Linked DNA regions of Homo sapiens: region 1 is linked to region 2. A link means that fine-mapping ties the variant in region 2 to the expression of a gene that starts in the linked region. Tissue or cell type: cerebellum. Region 2 holds a variant in brackets; the other region holds the start of a gene. All regions are shown on one strand. Distances are between the middles of the regions. Region 1 holds the start of NUDT7 (nudix hydrolase 7). Region 2 overlaps LOC107984878 (a long non-coding RNA gene).

Region 1 (2,711 bases), 26 kb after region 2:
ATTAAATGATGCAGTTCATATACTGTGGCTGGCACACAGCTGGTGCTCAGGGAATGGTAACCACTGTCATAAATCTCCCCATCATTAGATAAGCAGTTGTTTGCAGGAGGTATTTGCTATTTTTTGCCTCTTTCTAGGTGGCAGGGTGCTCACCAGATGTGGTTGGGTAACGGCAGTGTATTTCAAAGACCAAATGGCCTGAAAAAAATCAGTGAATGCTGGCACAGGGATTGCACAGTGCATCTGGATGCACGCAGGCCAGCCTCCAGAAAAGGAAACTGTGGGCTGGTGGCTTTTAACCACCCGGAAACCACAGAACTGACCAGACAAACCAGCCAAAGTAAAAGGCTGCAAAAACGTTATCTGTCCACTTTAGGGGCTGGCCGCTGGAATAATCACCAAGGTATCAACAGCAGTAGCAGCCACCCCGTTCTGAGCATGGTCTCAATTTTGACGTTTCTCATTTTATCCTCACAACAGCCCGGCAAGTGATCACAGGGTCACCTCCAGGCTCAGAGAGTTTACGAAACTGACAGACCCAAGGTCACAACTGAAAGTAGCCACCGGGGGACTTGAATCCGGGGCTGCCTGCTGCGGGTCTGTGCCACTGTCGGGGGTCCTGGGGTCCAACTCTGGAGACGCGGATTGCAGAACAGCCAAGCCGGCTGGGAAGGGGAGCAGCGTGTATGTAAACCATACTGGCTTAAGCCGGCTCTGTTCCTGGCCAGAGCAGTGCAAAGGTTCGGGGACCCTGCGGGTTGCTGGAGGCGAGTGCTCCCCCATCCGGCGCTCGCAGGTGGACTGGCGGGAGCTGCAAAATCAGTCCCGGCCAAAAGGCCCCGGTGGCCTCCGCTACGATCAAGGCCGGGCCTGACCAAGCTCGGGGTGCCAGGGCCCGGAAAGCCTTTACCTGACTGGCTCCTCGGGAAGACCAAGTCGTGACATTGCCCTGGGGAATGTTTGTTTCCGGGCGGACTCCTCGGAGCTGCTCGGTCGGTCGCGCTTGCGCAGAGCAGCTCTGGGCTTGGGAGCGGCCTAAAGCCAGAGAGAGGGGCGGGGCTTAGAGCACGAGGCGGGGTGGTGTCTGGGGCGGAGACAGGGGGCGGGGCGGTGCGAGATCTGGGATCGGAGGCCGGGATCGGGGCGGGGCGGGGCTTATAGCCAGAGGCGGGACTTGAGGTGGGGAGAGGCGCGGGGCGGGACTTAGGGCCGGGTGTTCCTGGTTGCTCAAAGCAGTTTCTGCCGGGCTCCTTGGGCTTCTATGGAAGCAAGAGGTATAGGAGGAGTTGTGGAATTTAGAGCTGGAAGAGTTAAAAAAAAAAAAAATACAGTGTTGGTGAGGTGATAATATTTTACACTCGCATTCGCTGTTGCTGGAAGGTTAAGGTGATTCATTCAACTTTTTGGAACTGCTGTCAGCACCTGTTCACCGACCACCTGTATGCACTGGGTGCAGATCCCACAGCTAGCGAAAAGACACGTGGAGCTCACAGTCAAATGGTAGAAACATAAATTAATCACACAGGGCTGGATGCAGTGGCATATGCTTGTAATTCCAACACTTTGGGAGGCCAAGAGGGGAGGATCACTTGAATCCAGGAGTTCGAGCCCAGCCTGGGCAACATGGCGAAACCCCATCTCTACAAAATAAAAATAAAAAATTAGCCAGGCGTGGTGGCACACACCTGTGGTCCCAGCTACTCAAGAGGCTGAGGTGGGAGGATCGCTTGAGCCCAGGAGGTCGAAGCTGCAGTGAGCCGTGATAGCACCACTGCACTCCAGCCTGACAGAGGTAGACCGTCTCAAAAATAAGAAGAAGAAGATAAGAAGTTTTTAATGCAAAAAAAAAAAAAAAAAAAAATCACACTGATAAAGCAGTGGCCTTTGGTCCTTCTAGAGCGTGTGAAGGAGAAATGTGACCCAATTAGGAGACAGAAGAGGCTTGGTAGAGGAAATAGAAGTGCAGCTCATCTTGAAAGCAGTAGTTCTCAAAGTGTGGTCCTCAGACCAGCAGAATCAGGATCACTTTGGTCCTGTTAAAAATGTGGACTCTGGGCCAGGCGCTGTGGCTCACACCTGTAATCCCAGCACTTTGGGAGGCCAAGTCGGGTGGATCACCTAAGGTCAGGAGTTTGAGACCAGCTTGGCCAACATGGTGAAACCCCATCTCTACTAAAAAAACAAAAATTAGCCAGTGGCAGGCGCCTGTAATCTCAGCTACTAGGAGGCTGAGGCAGGAGAATCGCTTGAACCTGGGAGGCGGAGTTTGCAGTGGGCCGAGATCGCGCCATTGCACTCCAGCCTGGGCAAAAAAAAGCGAAACTCTGTCTCAAAAACAAAACAAAACAAAACAACAACAACAACAACAACAAAAACCAAGAAAGAAAGAAAGGAAAGAAAGAAAAGAGAAAAGAAAAGAAAAGAAAAAAGACGAAAAGAAAAGAAAAGAAAAGAAAAGGTGGACTTTGGGGCCCATGTCACAACTGCTGAATCAGAAGCCAGGTGTCAGGCCCAGTGATCTGTGCTGTAAGGGGATTCTGATGCTCTGTGCGGGATAGAGGACATAAATGAGGAAAAAGGCAAGGGAGAGTGTTCAAGGAAGAGGGCAAAGTTTGTGCAAAGACAGCAGAAAGGGGCTGGAGAACAGTGTGTGTGAGGGAGCCTGGTGCGAGCTGAGAATCCAGGGGTCAGTGTAGGGCTGACTTCTCCCT
Region 2 (3,021 bases):
TCTGGAGCTCACTGCAATGGTAGGGTCCTAAGGATGTGGGTAGGACACAGACTGTATCTGTACATGGGGTGATCATTACTTCTCCAGTGTCCTAGTGTCCTGGCCACACATGAGTCATCTAGAGCCACTCTGTCCAGTAGAAATATACTGTAAGCCATGTATGTAAATTTAAATTTTCTAGTAGCCACATTCAAAAAAGTACTAAGAAACAGGATAAATTAATTTTCACCCTATATTTAACCCAACATCTCTAAAACATTATCATTTCACCATGTAGCCAATAGTAAGTCTTTGAAATCCAGTGTGTATTTGACTCCTACAGCATCTCAATTTGGACTAGCCACATTACAGGTGCTCTGTAGCCAGGGGTGTCTTGTGACAGCTTCACAGTTATCTCATGGGCTAGCCCAGACCCAAAGGCTTCTCCAGGAATGTTGATTCAGACTTTGATACATTTGCTTTAGCTTCTGTTTACTGGACCAACAAAGAAGAGGTGCAAAGGACACATATGTTATCAAAGACATCAGTGAGTTGACTTGGGTCTCCATTGTCCCTCTTTGTTCCTTATAGAACCTAAAGGCAGTCTATAGAGGAGTCATGGGGGCAACTGTGGTGGGGGAGAGGTGAGAAGAGCCAAGCAAGCAGTAATCTGTCCCCCTCACATACTTAACTGTCAGAGCAGTTTTACTTCTATATGTGGCAGGCAGGCCAGGCATGGCGGCTTATGCTTGTAATACTAGCACTTTGGAAGGCTCAGGTGGGAGGATTGCTTGGAGCCAGGAGTTTGAGACCAGCCTTTGCAACATAGCAGGACCTTGTTTCTATTTATAAAATAAAATATAATAAACATGATGTGGCAGACAATGAGTTTCCCATCATCCTCTTCCTTGTTAGCCGGGTCTGCCTCTCACAGTGGAGGAGAAAATGTCAGATGCCTATTTTCCTAATTTTTCTTGCAATTAGCATATGGGCTTAATCTGTCCAATGGGTCATATAGCTAGTGATGAGAGGAGACTGGGTTTTCTGTCTTCAGTCTTTCCTACCATACCATATTGCACTTCCAGAAGACTCTACATGTGGATAGGTCCATTCTAAGTTAAGAAAGAATAGAACCTAAGGTCCCCATAGTGTAAAAGGGTGTGAGAAAAGAGAAAAGAGAAGGATATAAAGACGTGTGTTTGTGATATGTTAGGACATTTTCCAGTGAAAGTTATAGAACTCTTTCTAAGCTTGCTCAAGCACGTTAGGGAATTTAACTACGAAGGGTGGGAGCATTTCATGGAAACCATGGAAACATCCGGGTCTCAAGAACAAACATCCAGGGATTCTAATGCCTTCACAACACACGACTGACTTTCATTGCTCTTCCATTCTGGTCATTGACTTTGTTCTCCTCTCTTGTTGCAGACAAGCTTTCTCTGCTTCCCAGGGCAAATGGTGGAACACAAACACCCACATATGCTCTCTTCCGGAGGGCAGGCAGACAGACTCTG[C/G]TGTTGCTTGGTACTAATCCCAAGGGAATTACTGAGGGACTAAATCTGATTAACTGAGTTTATGCTGGGAGGTCAGCAATGTCCTGTTTCCATGGTAATCCCAAGACAGAGGGCAGAGCTATTTCTCAAAATGAAGAGATGTTTCAGAAGGGGGCTGTGTAGTTTCCTAGGGCTGTCCTAACAATTTGCCACAAACTTGGTAGCTTAAAACAACCGAAATTTGTTATCTCACGGTTCTGAAGGCCAGAAATCTGAAATCAAGGCGTTGGCAGCATCACCCTCCCTCCAAAGGCTGTGGGGAGGACCCTTCCTTTCCTCTTCCAGCTTCCGGTGGCTCCTGGTGTTCCTTGGCTCGCGGCAACATAACTCTAATCTCTGCCTCTGTCTTCACATGGCTTCTTCCCTGTGTCTCTTGCAACTGTGTGTCTCAAATTTCCCTCTTTTTTTATTTATAAAGACACCAGTCATTGGATTTAGGGATTACCGTAAATCTAGGATGATCTCATTTCAAGGTCTTTAACTTAACTACCTCTGCAAAGATCTTATTTCCAAATAAGCTCACATTCACAGGCATTGGAGTTAGGATTTGGACATATCTTTTCGGGACCACTATTCAATTCACTACAGGGGGCTAAGATGGGTTAATATATGTTTGTAACAGGTTGAGAGTTCTAGCAAAATGTTCCCACTATCTTCAGTTTATCATTTAGCCTGATATTAGACCATACAGATTTATAGTCAGAAAAAATAACGTAGGCAAATTTTCAGAATGCTGTTTGGGATCCGTGAAATATAGCTGAAACTGAAGGCTGATGGAAGAAGATGAAATGAGACTAGAGTGAAGAAACACGTGAAGAAAGTGAGGAGAAGAAAATAATCGGAAGGAAAACTTCAAGTTTCACATAAATGATAAGTGAAAAAGAGAAAAAAATTGACACAGAGATGTCATTGACATCCATGATGAAGTAGAGAGTAAGGGCTTGAAGATTTAAAATGAAAATTGAGGAAAGTTATAGTTGAGGAAATATTAAACCAAGTCTACACCTATAAAATTAAAATTTATGGGCTTGAGTATGAGATCTTTAAGAAGGATAAATTGCTTCAGGAAATATTCTTCTTCCAGTTGTATCTGATGAAATCCCTGACACGACAACTACTGCTTAGAGCAAAGACATATTTCTACCATTATTGGCCAACTAACTTTAAACTCTGACTTCTTGGGCTCACTCATCAGTATGTACATGGGCCAAAATATTTCCCAAGCATATGTTACCTTCTGGCATTGCTCAAAGTTTTTTGAAAATCGAATGGACTTTAGATCCGGTATTTAAGTAGATCATACAAGTCATAAGCCACTGAATTAGGGGCCACCTATGGGTTTGCCATTGATCCTTGGTCCATTCATTTGAGGATAGGGGAACTCAGAGTGAGGGGTCTTATGGTGCATGGATCTGTCCCTTCCAGGGTTAGGTCTGGAATAAACACAGAGATACACATGTATTATACAGATATGCAAAGGAATGCAATG

What was found.
Region 1: NUDT7 starts here. The variant in region 2 is fine-mapped to the expression of NUDT7 in cerebellum (GTEx, PIP 0.92).

Annotation. Positions count from the first base shown.
Region 1 is chr16:77,720,817-77,723,527 of GRCh38, reverse strand. It overlaps NUDT7 (nudix hydrolase 7), which reads right to left and starts at 1,014. Exons shown (of 4, transcript NM_001105663.3): 1 at 911-1,014. The coding sequence starts at 945. RefSeq lists a silencer at 1,039-1,168 and an enhancer at 882-1,176.
Region 2 is chr16:77,747,115-77,750,135 of GRCh38, reverse strand. The region is part of intron 5 of LOC107984878 (a long non-coding RNA gene); the gene reads left to right. Among named protein-coding and RNA genes, the nearest start is that of NUDT7, 26 kb to the right of the region's middle. The variant C/G (reference allele first, on the strand shown) is at 1,494.